4 separate regions of the Homo sapiens genome follow, and regions 2, 3 and 4 are each reported to be linked to region 1. The links are microRNA targets in miRTarBase. Many come from high-throughput screens and were not tested one by one. Region 1 holds a microRNA gene; each other region holds the end of a gene's coding sequence.

What was found. Region 1 holds the annotated microRNA hsa-miR-3662 (GAAAAUGAUGAGUAGUGACUGAUG, at 2,184-2,207, shown strand). A microRNA usually pairs through its seed, bases 2 to 8, with sites in the 3' UTR of a target mRNA and lowers its output. Matches are read on the target gene's strand: a 7mer-m8 pairs with bases 2 to 8, a 7mer-A1 pairs with bases 2 to 7 and ends in A, and an 8mer does both.
Region 2: the mRNA of EIF3M is a reported target of hsa-miR-3662. Seed matches in the 3' UTR shown: 8mer at 861-868, 7mer-m8 at 994-1,000, 8mer at 1,513-1,520 and 7mer-m8 at 2,942-2,948.
Region 3: miRTarBase lists CPA4 as a target of hsa-miR-3662. Seed matches in the 3' UTR shown: 7mer-m8 at 788-794.
Region 4: the mRNA of EPB41L4B is a reported target of hsa-miR-3662. Seed matches in the 3' UTR shown: 7mer-m8 at 2,227-2,233.

Annotation. Positions count from the first base shown.
Region 1 is chr6:134,978,395-134,981,561 of GRCh38, reverse strand. MIR3662 (microRNA 3662) reads left to right here and starts at 2,130; the gene lies at 2,130-2,224. It overlaps HBS1L (HBS1 like translational GTPase), which reads left to right. Exons shown (of 18, transcript NM_006620.4): 14 at 2,294-2,384; 15 at 2,775-2,883.
Region 2 is chr11:32,601,879-32,605,045 of GRCh38, forward strand. It overlaps EIF3M (eukaryotic translation initiation factor 3 subunit M), which reads left to right. Exons shown (of 11, transcript NM_006360.6): 11 at 401-3,167. The coding sequence ends at 521. CCDC73 (coiled-coil domain containing 73) reads right to left here. Exons shown (of 18, transcript NM_001008391.4): 18 at 843-1,142. The coding sequence ends at 933. Among named protein-coding and RNA genes, the nearest start is that of EIF3M, 20 kb to the left of the region's middle.
Region 3 is chr7:130,322,204-130,325,342 of GRCh38, forward strand. It overlaps CPA4 (carboxypeptidase A4), which reads left to right. Exons shown (of 11, transcript NM_016352.4): 11 at 286-1,977. The coding sequence ends at 473. All of the region lies in intron 1 of LOC105375503 (a long non-coding RNA gene), which reads right to left. Among named protein-coding and RNA genes, the nearest start is that of CPA5, 21 kb to the right of the region's middle.
Region 4 is chr9:109,171,922-109,175,088 of GRCh38, forward strand. It overlaps EPB41L4B (erythrocyte membrane protein band 4.1 like 4B), which reads right to left. Exons shown (of 26, transcript NM_019114.5): 26 at 53-2,702. The coding sequence ends at 2,633. Among named protein-coding and RNA genes, the nearest start is that of FRRS1L, 6.3 kb to the left of the region's middle.

The DNA of each region.
Region 1 (3,167 bases):
CCTGACTAGTTTATCAATTTGAATGTATATTTTTCTTGAATTCATATGCTCTCTTTAAAAGAAGATTTCTTGAAAAGTTTAAGAAATTAATATCTATTGAAGTTACATGGTTTAACCTATATTTAAAGATGAATAAGGGAATGAAAATCAGTTATTTCCATTTGACCTTTTTATTTGTGCCCACTAGAGATCATGAAATTTCAGTTTTGATAAAAAGTAATATGCACTTTAAAAATAGTGTCATTTTCTATAGATCTGTTCATTGTGTGCAAGTACAGGTCTCTGCTTTTGTTTTTTAAAGTGACAAGAGCTATAATACTTTTGAAACACGATTTTTTTGGTATGTTAATGATCTTTTTTGAGAACAAGAATTTTTTTATGATTAAGAGCCATAAATTAAAACCATGATCCTAAAGTTATCACAGACCTTGAGGTTGGCTCCCTTGTAACCTCTAAAATCCTTAGTCATCTCTGAAAGTCTCACATTCTTTACCCTCCTCTTCTCTGTACTTTCCACACAGAGAAACTCTAAAGTATTATCTTTTATCAGTGTAAGTCTTATCAGAAGCCCCAGGGAAGAACCACCCTACTTCTTGAGAGCCAGTCTTTTAACTCAACAGAGAGGTTCTCCTTCCTCCATTCTAACCTTACTGCTTTTGCTTGGTTTACTTGATTCTTGAAAGCACTGTTCTGTCTAAACATTTTTAGGTACTACTGTGGCTCTTTAACCAGTACTGTCCCAAAAGAAAGACTTGACTGAATCTACTACCAACAAATAGAAATTCTAAATTACTTTTTTTTTTTTACTTTATTAACATATCAAGCTCATAGAGTATTAAAAAAGAGCCTCTTTTTGTAATGTTTGTCCAATGAGAAAAGTTTTTTGATAAATGTCATATGTGGAACAGTGTAACATGATTGAGGGGAAGAAGAACCAGAGAATATAATTACCTTTGGAAAATTTTATACTGTTAATTGAACTTGTAGTATAAAACATCTACAAATGTTTAAGCCAAAGTCAATCTCTATTGTGTGTAAATACCTAGCTTCTGTTTTTAATCCCATATTTCATAGCAAAATTCAGATATGTTCATTCTAAATTTACATTTTAAAATTAAATCTAGTAAGTTGATATTTAACAAACATTCCTTAATACGATAATTGCTAACATGTTTGGGAGGAAGAATCTCTGATACCTGAAGAAAGTTATGCCTTCTTTTCTCAGATTAATGCAGATGTGCACATACATGATATTTTGCATGAAACTCTAGATTGTCTCAGAGCTCTTAAAGTTAAATCCTTGAGCTCCCTAAAAGTCAGAAACTCTCCCTGCTGCATAGAAAATGAGTATTTTCAGAAAGATATGGGTGGATTATAATTTACTAAGAACATGTCAATGTGTCAATCAAGAACTATCCACAGTGGTTGGCCTACACATTCTCTTTGTCAAAAGGCCTACATTTCTATGGAAAGGAACTTAATCCATAAATGTATTCCATAAAATCAGAAAATATGGGATATATTTTAAAAGCCTTTGAGTAAGGTAGCTGAGTATTGCCCTTGGGAACTGCTCTCTCCGACTACCTTCAGGACTATGTCTAGGTAAATAGATGTATATCTCTAGATATATAGCAACACCTAGGATCATTTTAAAATTAAATTTTCTTATCACTATTTCCTTAATATTTTTCTTTTCATATAACTAGTCATTAGTATGCAGATCTCTCTCTGGAAAGAAGTTCTTTTGAGCCAGGAGTAGTTAAGGGGCCTGCTGAGAGGACCGCTTGAAATTCTGACTGAGTGTACATGTCCCATGGGTTACTTGGAAAACAAGGATTATTTGTTTAGGTGGTTGTCTAATTAAAAGCAAAACTCGAGAAGAAAATACTGCTAGACATCTTCTCCAGCCCATCTTTTATGTCATTATGAATAATTTGAACTGTGTTTTATTTTGTCTGTATCCATTAATATGATAGAAATATTTGAATGGGGCCTGTTTAATGAATATACCAATTGTGTCAATTAGTTTAAAAATCTTGATTAAATAAGCAGAAGTCAGCCTTTTATGGGCAAATACAAGTCACTTTATGTTTAGGGTGGTATTCTAGAAGAGTCAGTTCTAGAGGAAGTGTGTTTTCCTCAACGCTCACAGTTACACTTCTTACTCTCAATCCATTCATATTGAAAATGATGAGTAGTGACTGATGAAGCACAAATCAGCCAAACTCTGTTGGTTGTTATGGTTTGATATCGAGGTGTTTCACTGTATGCTTTGGTTCTTACTCATTTCCAGGAATCACTCTGCATGATGAACCTGTCGACTGGGCGGCAGCAGGCGATCATGTTAGTCTTACTTTGGTTGGGATGGATATCATCAAAATCAAGTGAGTGAGAAAATGAGTTTAAGCAACCGTTGTCTTCATATAGGACCTCACCTCTAAACACATATATTTTGCAACCTGCTAGTTCAATTTTGAATTTCATTTGACCAAAAATAGACACCTGTGTAAATGTAAGCAAACTTACTTAAAATTTGAATTAATACATGTCAGCACACATACTTGGCATGTGCTTTGAGTGAAAGCTCTAATGTATAAAAATGACATAAGGTTAATAATGGTTTAAAGTCATGCTTTAGCTCAGAAGAGAATATTTAGAAAAAGTCCCTAATTTACTTAATTGTTTTACTTTCCTTGTAAATGTTTTTGAGGTCTTTCTATTTGATGTAAATTTGTCCCCCAATTACCTTTCCTCTTTTTTTGTTGTTCTTACAGTGTTGGCTGCATATTTTGTGGCCCCAAAGTACCCATTAAAGCTTGCACTCGTTTCAGAGCCCGAATCCTCATCTTTAATATTGAAATTCCTATCACTAAAGGATTTCCTGTAAGTTCCAAAATGTTTTATTATTCCTGTTTTTATAAATTCAAAGTAACTTTATCCTAAAAGTGGTAACTTTCTTTACAAGTGGTGATACTATATTTATTTTGAATTAACATCTTATTACTGTAATCCAGAAAAACTTATAATTAGAAAATCGTTTTTATTTTGTTTTTTATTTTGATCTTTGAGCCTGAGGACTTTTTAAAAGGCATTGAGAAGATATTTAATAATAAATAGGATACAAAGTAATGATAATAAAATTTATCCAGGGAAAAATGATAGACACA
Region 2 (3,167 bases), not on the chromosome of region 1:
TTTCACTTAAATGTTTAGAGAACCAAGGTGGTGTTATCACTTGACTGTAGTTAAATAGTTGCTATTTATCATAATTTTATTAAAGTTCAGACTGAATGTGATTAGCTTATTTAATGAAAGAGTCCTATTTTCCAGCACATTTCATTTAATGGCTGAGCATTGGCTAGAATACTAATGACTTTTATGTCTGCTTTATATAGTTGCTCAGGAGAATTAGAAGGCTTAGGATCAATATGGTAAAGATTTTTTTTAAATAATTATGTAATTCTTAAATTCTCTTACTATTCTAAATTAGGTATATTTAATCTTGCTTTTAACTGGATTCAAATCTGTAGTATTATAAAAGAATACCAGAGGCTAAAAGGTTGACTAACACTGTGTTTAATTTTTCAATTTTTAGTCATAGCACACATCGGACATTTGGAAAACAGCAGTGGCAACAACTGTATGACACACTTAATGCCTGGAAACAAAATCTGAACAAAGTGAAAAACAGCCTTTTGAGTCTTTCTGATACCTGAGTTTTTATGCTTATAATTTTTGTTCTTTGAAAAAAAAGCCCTAAATCATAGTAAAACATTATAAACTAAAAAAATTTGCCTAGTCTGGACAGTTATTGTCTCAAATTTATACTAAAATCACAAACTCCAGAGGATATGAAGTAATAAATTACAAGGGGTCACAATGTCTGTCATACAATACATAAATTCTGTTCTTTAAAAAAGGATATTGAAGAAGCAATGAGCACTTTAAAGAAAGGATAATATACAGAGAGAAGACAGAAGTAGAGTAATACAATTTCTTCACATTAGAAAAACTTGGAAAAGCAAAGACAAACTGTAGAGCTTTAAATACAACAGTCATTTTATTCTAGTAAAAACTATACCAGAATTTCAGTTACATAATTTCACTACTGAAAGCACTTATCTACATTATTTTAATCTGTTGTTTTTTTCCAACGTCTCTTCTGCTTTTCTTTTCTTTGGCTGGTTGTCATTTTCTAAACTTAGTAAATTTTCACTTTTATTTAGTTGATTCGTAATGAGGCTCTGCCAGTCATCATCACCAGAAGTATTTTTAGTCGTCTTGATTGCCTGCAAATGGCTTTGTAGTGGAGTTGATATCAGAGGCTTTGTTTTCACCTGGGAAAGATAAACTAATTTTACCTTCGAAATTATTATACAAAAGATTTTAAAGAGTCTGTAAAGCCTCTGCAGTTATGAGTATGTGGTAAAACCACCATCTCTTGGCTGATTTCCACTACCTTAGTAGTTCTGGCACCAGAAAAGTATACAATGTGAATGTGTAGGCTTATGTAGTAGATCTTCAAAATCTCTAATATATAACTGAAGTAAAGTGTACAAAAACTGCCTTTTACTACTTCATGTTTCCTCCCATGCTTCAGAACACCATTGTTGAAGAAACAGGAAGGGCAGTGAGATATTTGGAAGTTGGCATGTTTTCAAGACACTGTATTGGGTAATTTTAAAAATAGTGTGTTAAATAACTTTTTCATTTTAAGGTTCTTTTCTGATGTTAAAATACTTACTGGAAATTTAGAAAATAGAGTAAAGTAGAAAGAAACTAAAAATCATTAGTAATCCCTTATCCAGAGAGGCTTGTTGACATTTTGGTATTATTTGCTGCTAGCGTTTTTTTCTATTTTTAGCCTATTTGATCATTCTATAGAATTTTATGTATTTTCCTCTGTGAGCAGTTTCTTAGGTCATTAAAAACAATTGTCTATGGCTGCAAAATACTCCCTTTTATGGATGTTTGATATATCTCCTACTACTGAATGTTTGTTTCCAGTTTATCCCTACCAAAAATTAATTCGAGTTAATTTCATGCAAAACAATCTTTGATGTTTTTGAGAGATTCCCAGATAAAATTTTCTCTTCAAAAGGAATACTGGGCCAGGCACTGTGACTCATACCTGTAATCCCAGCACTTTGGGAAACTGAGGCGAGTGGATTGCATGAGCTCAGGAGTCGAAAACTAGCCTGAGCAACATGGCAAAACCCCATCTCTACCAAAAATTAGCTGGGCATGGTGGCATGCAACTGTAGTCCCAGCTCCTCGGAGGGCTGAGGTGCAAGGATCATTTGAGCCCAGGAGGTGAAGGTTGCAATGAGCCAAGATCATGCCATTGCACTCCAGCCTGGACAACAGAGTGAGACCCTCTCTCAAAAATAAATAATAGATAAAACAAAAGGAATACTGAATTGTTTTCAAAATAACAATTATGGTGGGCTTTCTTTTAAGATAGGGTCTCACCCTGTCACCTAGGCTGGAGTGCAGTGGCACAATCACAGCTCATTGCAGCCTTGACCTCCCTGGATTCAGGTGATCCTCCCACCTTCACCTCCTGAGTACCTTGGACTACAGGCATGTGCCACCACACCCAGGTAATTTTTGTATTTTTTGCCATGTTGCCCAGGCTGGTCTCTCTTAACTCTTGGGCTCAAGTGATCTGACCATCTCGGTCTCCCAAAGTTCTAGGATTACAGGAGTGAGCCATACTGTGTTGTGTTTTAGTTGAAAGGGATATACACGTGTATTTTAGAAATATGAAACAGGATAAGAATTACATTAAAATCACCCAAGATCCCAACCACCATTAAAGAGTTTGTGTAAATCTTCTGGTCTCTTTTCTGTATACACTTTTTAAATACTGGGGTCATATTTTTATTGGTTTATATGCTATGTTAAACATTTTTAGCATTTCCTCCTGTTCTTAAGTCTGTTAAGAGGATAGCTCCATCATATTCTGTGTTCTGCAAATTATTTCTGGACATTTAAATTGTAAGAAAATGGTCACTGTTAACTAGGCTGCAGTGATTATCATTTGTTCATAAATCTTTGTGAAGATCTTTGGGTACTGCCTTACATTAAAATCTTTTTCAATTTGACCAGTAAAAGTGGCATGTTAGTAACATTGTCATTTTCAGTGTTAGATTATGTAGTACTAAGTTTATTTTATTTTATTTTTGAGACAGAGTCTTGCACTGTCGCCCAGGCTGGAGTGCAGTGGCGCCATCTCAGCTCACTGCAACCTCCACCTCCCAGGTTCAAGCGATTCTTCTGCCTCAGCCTCCCGAGTAGCTGGGATTACAGGCACCCACCACGATGCCCAGCTAATTTTTTGTATTTTTAGTAGAGACAGG
Region 3 (3,139 bases), not on the chromosome of region 1:
CTATAGAGATTGGTTTTGAGGGACTTACAGGACGGACACAGCGTTAGTAATAAGGTGGGAGTAGGGGTTTCAGATCTCTTGATTTGAGACCAGTGTGCACCTCAGGCCAATGCAGGATGTCCTGAGACATAGGGATCAGGCTGATGATTTTGTCATAGGACTGATGACTTGAGGAGCAAACTCTGGATTCCTTAAGGAACCCCAGGCAGGCAGAGCTCTTGGCCCCTTCCCATCTAACCCAGGAGGGAACTGGGCTTCAAGAGTGTTTTGTCCTCCGACTTACAGATCCAGCTAGCGGGAGCAGCATCGACTGGGCATATGACAACGGCATCAAATTTGCATTCACATTTGAGTTGAGAGATACCGGGACCTATGGCTTCCTCCTGCCAGCTAACCAGATCATCCCCACTGCAGAGGAGACGTGGCTGGGGCTGAAGACCATCATGGAGCATGTGCGGGACAACCTCTACTAGGCGATGGCTCTGCTCTGTCTACATTTATTTGTACCCACACGTGCACGCACTGAGGCCATTGTTAAAGGAGCTCTTTCCTACCTGTGTGAGTCAGAGCCCTCTGGGTTTGTGGAGCACACAGGCCTGCCCCTCTCCAGCCAGCTCCCTGGAGTCGTGTGTCCTGGCAGTGTCCCTGCAAGAACTGGTTCTGCCAGCCTGCTCAATTTTGGTCCTGCTGTTTTTGATGAGCCTTTTGTCTGTTTCTCCTTCCACCCTGCTGGCTGGGCGGCTGCACTCAGCATCACCCCTTCCTGGGTGGCATGTCTCTCTCTACCTCATTTTTAGAACCAAAGAACATCTGAGATGATTCTCTACCCTCATCCACATCTAGCCAAGCCAGTGACCTTGCTCTGGTGGCACTGTGGGAGACACCACTTGTCTTTAGGTGGGTCTCAAAGATGATGTAGAATTTCCTTTAATTTCTCGCAGTCTTCCTGGAAAATATTTTCCTTTGAGCAGCAAATCTTGTAGGGATATCAGTGAAGGTCTCTCCCTCCCTCCTCTCCTGTTTTTTTTTTTTTGAGACAGAGTTTTGCTCTTGTTGCCCAGGCTGGAGTGTGATGGCTCGATCTTGGCTCACCACAACCTCTGCCTCCTGGGTTCAAGCAATTCTCCTGCCTCAGCCTCTTGAGTAGCTTGGTTTATAGGCGCATGCCACCATGCCTGGCTAATTTTGTGTTTTTAGTAGAGACAGGGTTTCTCCATGTTGGTCAGGCTGGTCTCAAACTCCCAACCTCAGGTGATCTGCCCTCCTTGGCCTCCCAGAGTGCTGGGATTACAGGTGTGAGCCACTGTGCCGGGCCCGTCCCCTCCTTTTTTAGGCCTGAATACAAAGTAGAAGATCACTTTCCTTCACTGTGCTGAGAATTTCTAGATACTACAGTTCTTACTCCTCTCTTCCCTTTGTTATTCAGTGTGACCAGGATGGCGGGAGGGGATCTGTGTCACTGTAGGTACTGTGCCCAGGAAGGCTGGGTGAAGTGACCATCTAAATTGCAGGATGGTGAAATTATCCCCATCTGTCCTAATGGGCTTACCTCCTCTTTGCCTTTTGAACTCACTTCAAAGATCTAGGCCTCATCTTACAGGTCCTAAATCACTCATCTGGCCTGGATAATCTCACTGCCCTGGCACATTCCCATTTGTGCTGTGGTGTATCCTGTGTTTCCTTGTCCTGGTTTGTGTGTGTGTGTGTGTGTGTGTGTGTGTGTGTGTGTGTGTTTGTGTGTGTGTGTCTGTCTATTTTGTATCCTGGACCACAAGTTCCTAAGTAGAGCAAGAATTCATCAACCAGCTGCCTCTTGTTTCATTTCACCTCAGCACGTACCATCTGTCCTTTTGTTGTTGTTTTGTTTTTGTTTTTTTGCTTTTACCAAACATGTCTGTAAATCTTAACCTCCTGCCTAGGATTTGTACAGCATCTGGTGTGTGCTTATAAGCCAATAAATATTCAATGTGAGTTTCATGATCATCTCCTATTCTTTGCCTTCACCTGAATGGAACCAAGCTATAGTTTTGAATATGCAACTCTTTATAATGTCAGAAGTCGACTTTAATCCCTGTCTGTATCGCATGACATGTAAGAAGTCCTCCTTCATCAGGCCAAGGGGCCTCCAGGGCAATGTTACCTTGGTGATTTCACTCTGGTCCTGGGTCTAATTCTTAGCTTTTCAGCTCAAAAGCTTGATAGTCTCAGTGTCCATGTTGATTAAACTAGGGGATGCTGACTCACGCCTACAGACCTCAGATGAGGCAGATGATAAAATCAGAATGCGAATTTATTAATTTACATCGTGGCATGTAACCGGTGAGTGGATTGGATCCTCACGTCGGCCTGAGCAGTACATTCTCTCCCTGTAGGCAAGATACATGGGAAGCCAAATTATAATCAGAAGGTTGCTTAGTGAGCGGGCGTCAGAGCAAGGAAAGTTAATTAAAGTCTATGATTAGACTTTTTAATAGCACCCAGCTCTAATAGCATGATATATCCAGTTCTATAGCCAGAGCACACCTGCCAGTCAGCCAGCTGGCCGCTTGTGCTGGCTGGTCAGGACTGCCTCAGACAGTTATGCTGTGCCTCGGTAAGCATAAACAAGCTTGCCTCTGTGACTGGCCTCTGACCTGGGCCTAATTGTGATCACTCCCCTCAGACTCAGATTATCCTTCAGATTCCTTAAGGGAAAGATTTATTTTAAAATTTTATTATTATTTCTTTCTATAGAGAGATGGGGCCTTGCTATGTTGCCCAGGCTGGTCTTGAACTCCTGGCCTCAAGCAATCCTCCAACCTTGGCCTCCCAAAGTGCTGGGATTACAGATGTGAGCCACCACACCCGGCCAAGGGAAAGACTGCTTAAACGAGACATAAATGCCAGATACTATAATGAAATTAGAGCTTTTGTTCATTAAAAGATATAGAAACGGAGAAAACAAGTTAAAGGCCAGGAGAGGATGTTCACCATATTTCTAATACAAACAACAGACAAAGAATGTATGAAGAACTTCAACAAATCAATAAAGAAAGCACAGATAACCCAATAGAAAAATGCACCAAAGGTATAACGAAGCATTTCACATAAGAGGAAGCACAGGCCGTGCATGGTGGCACATCCCTATAATCCCAACACT
Region 4 (3,167 bases), not on the chromosome of region 1:
AATGCCAAGCACCCATCATTCACTTAAATAGGCAAATAACCAGGACAACTGCTGAAACCATGGAATCCTCTTATTTTACTGGTTAGAGGTGAGCTGCCAAAGGTACTGGGTTTCAAATACAGTAACAGCCAACTTGTTTGTGGTCAGACTTCCAGTGACGTCAACCTTCAGAAACTTCAACATCTGTGAACTCTGGGGGAAGCGGGGAAGAAGCAGGAAGCCCAGAGCCTCCTGGAAACACTGGCCAAAAAGCCCATGCATCCCTTCTTGGAAGCCAAGCAGATCTGACACATAGGAAATACTGGCTTTCCTGGCTTCCCCAAGAAACCTTCAGCTTTGCCCTGGAGGTTTCCATCAGCGAGCAGGAGGTGAAGAGCAGAAGCCTCAGAAAGCAGGTTAGAAGAGGAAGAGGGTGCTGGGTTGGCAAGAAGTGACAGCCCCATATTGTACGGGAACATATTTTGTATCATGTGCACAAGATAAAGAACAGCTAAAGCTGTTTTAAAAGTATAGCCGGGGGACATAGGGGTAAAAGGACCCAAACGCTACAATTGCCCCGGATAGCTCCACTGACAGAGCAGAGAGCAGTAAAAAACCATCAGTGAGAACAGCATAATATCCTATAAAAGGCCAAGCCAAGCCCTACACATATTGATAGCTCTTAATGATATCACTGCACCGTACCAAGGTATAAAAGGGGCTGATGTTTATAATCATGACCATGACTCATCAAGAAAAGGTTAAATACTCTCCAGTATACTCTGTTTACTAAGGCAGGGAAGTGCGTAATACATTTTAGAAAGATTTCCCTCAAAAAAAAATATATTAAAATTTTAAAGATTCAGCACTTAAAGGGTTAATCCTCGGTTATCTGAATATTCACATACATTCCTCATTTTACAACAATACTAGTAAATGAGGCATTACCTTTTTTTGTAGTCATTAGTATCAAATTATTGGCACCATTCAGTTTTAAGGAGAGGGGCAGGAGAGCAAACTATACAATATAACATAAAAATACAGTTCTGATACAAATATATGAGATCAGTTCCTCTTAACAAGTGGTCATAAGAAATGAATGAACATTTTACACACAAGGAAATACAACTAGTAAATCATCACATGGAAAAGTGCTCAGCCTTGCTAGCAATTAATGAAATAAAACAACTCTTCAAGAACAACTATACATACCTATTAAACTAGCAAAAATAAATAAAAATGGCAAAACCCAATACTGGCAGAGCTATTGGTAAACAGAAATGCTTATACATTGCTGGTGGCATCATAAATTGTCGAGGGGATTCAAGCATTCAGAGGGGGTGGGGAGGCTAAACTAGATGACCTTTAAGGTCCTTCCAACCCAAAGATTGGATCTTTCTAGAAAGCAATCTGGCAATATAAAACAAGAGCTATAAAATACTTCATGCTCTTTGACCTTGTAATCCCTCTTTGGAGATATTCCTAAGGGAATAATCCAAAAGAAGGAGCAGTTTTTTTTTTTTACAGACATTCATAGCAGCACTATTTATAAGAGTGAAAAATTAGATATAACTCAAATATCTAATAATGGGGTGAAGTGAGGTTACCCATGTTACATGGATATAAAGACATTTAAATTGGTGAGAGTAGAATCTGTGTTGACAAGAGGAGACAAGTGTTAGGCCGAGAAGTAAAACAAAGGAGAATGTACACAACGATCATAGCTATGTAAAAATATGTGTGTATTCATTGAGAAAGCTAGGGAACTAATTTAGAGGGATATTTTGTGGTTAGGGGGTTGCTTTATTCCTGCAAAGTTGTTCAAGTGCATTAATAAAAATTTAAAAACACATTTCTTGAAACTATATAAAAAGAGCAAAATTTCTTCTGGTCAAGATTCTATCAATACGACATGAATCGATCAACTTTAGAAATAATTTTCTGAATCTTCTTGATATTGAATCATCTTAACCTTGTAAGGATTTTTAGACAATGTAAGCTATCATTTCCTACTTTGGGTTCAATGATAAATTCTGTTTATTCCAAATAATATCATATCCAAGGAGTTCACAAGTTAAATTATATTTCAGATTAAGCTGAAGTACCTTCAGTCATAGTGATATGTAACTTTCTTTTTTTAGTTCTTCTACTCACATCTGAATACAAATGAATGTTAAAGACTTTATAAGATCTGTGTATTTATCAGTGTAAATGAAAAACCAGCAATAAAGAATTATTCTTTCATTAAAAATGACTCTTTAACAAACAGTCAAAGCTCGGTGCAAGTTTCAATCATACAAAATCAAATGGTTGAAATTGATAGTAAAAGATCCTACATCATATTAACCCCTGTGGTTATTAACAGATACACACAGGTACTTCTGAAAAGGAATCCCGTTTTCCCATCTTTCTTTTCCTAGACTTATCAAATCCTGTCTCAACTACATAGAGTAATAGAAAAACTCTAATGCTTAGGAGACATAAAATAACTTTTCCCATAAAAGTCAAGCCAGAAATTGGCTTCAACTAACCATGGAGACCTGGGCGAACAGAGCACACACTTGTATGCTGTGCTAGAGTGAGCACACAAAGCCCGAAGAAAGAAGACGGACAGAAGGCACCATGCCATCTTCCAGGTGACAAGGGGAGAATTTCACAGTTCGGTCATCAACAGTCTTTTCATCATCTTCTCTCTCTCCAGTTCCTGCCGGAGTGTCTCTGCACTAAAAAAAAGTATGTGACAAAATAGTGAGACAATCCCTCAAAAATTGCAGAAGCAGACAGCTTAAGTATCATCTCCCAGGTTCTTTCCTGATCTCAGTGTTGGACTTTCTTTTTTAGACTCCTTGAGGACTATCTACATTTGCTAGCATTTCAGTGATCTGAAATTGGCTACTTACTGGTTTCTCAGTCCCACCATGCTGAGAGTTCCTGGCTGACTATATGTCATTCATCTCTAAACCTCCAGAGCCTTGCGCAGTATCTGGTGCATGGCAGCCACTCAGTAAAGTGTTTTTTTTTTTTTTTTTTTTTTGAGATGGAGTCTCACTCTGTCACCCAGGCTGGAGTACAGTGGCGTGATCTTGGCTCACTGCAACCTCCACCTCCCAGGTTCAAGCGATTCTTCTGTCTCAGCCTCCAGCATAGCTGGGATTACAGGCACGTGCCACCATGCCAAGCTAATTTTT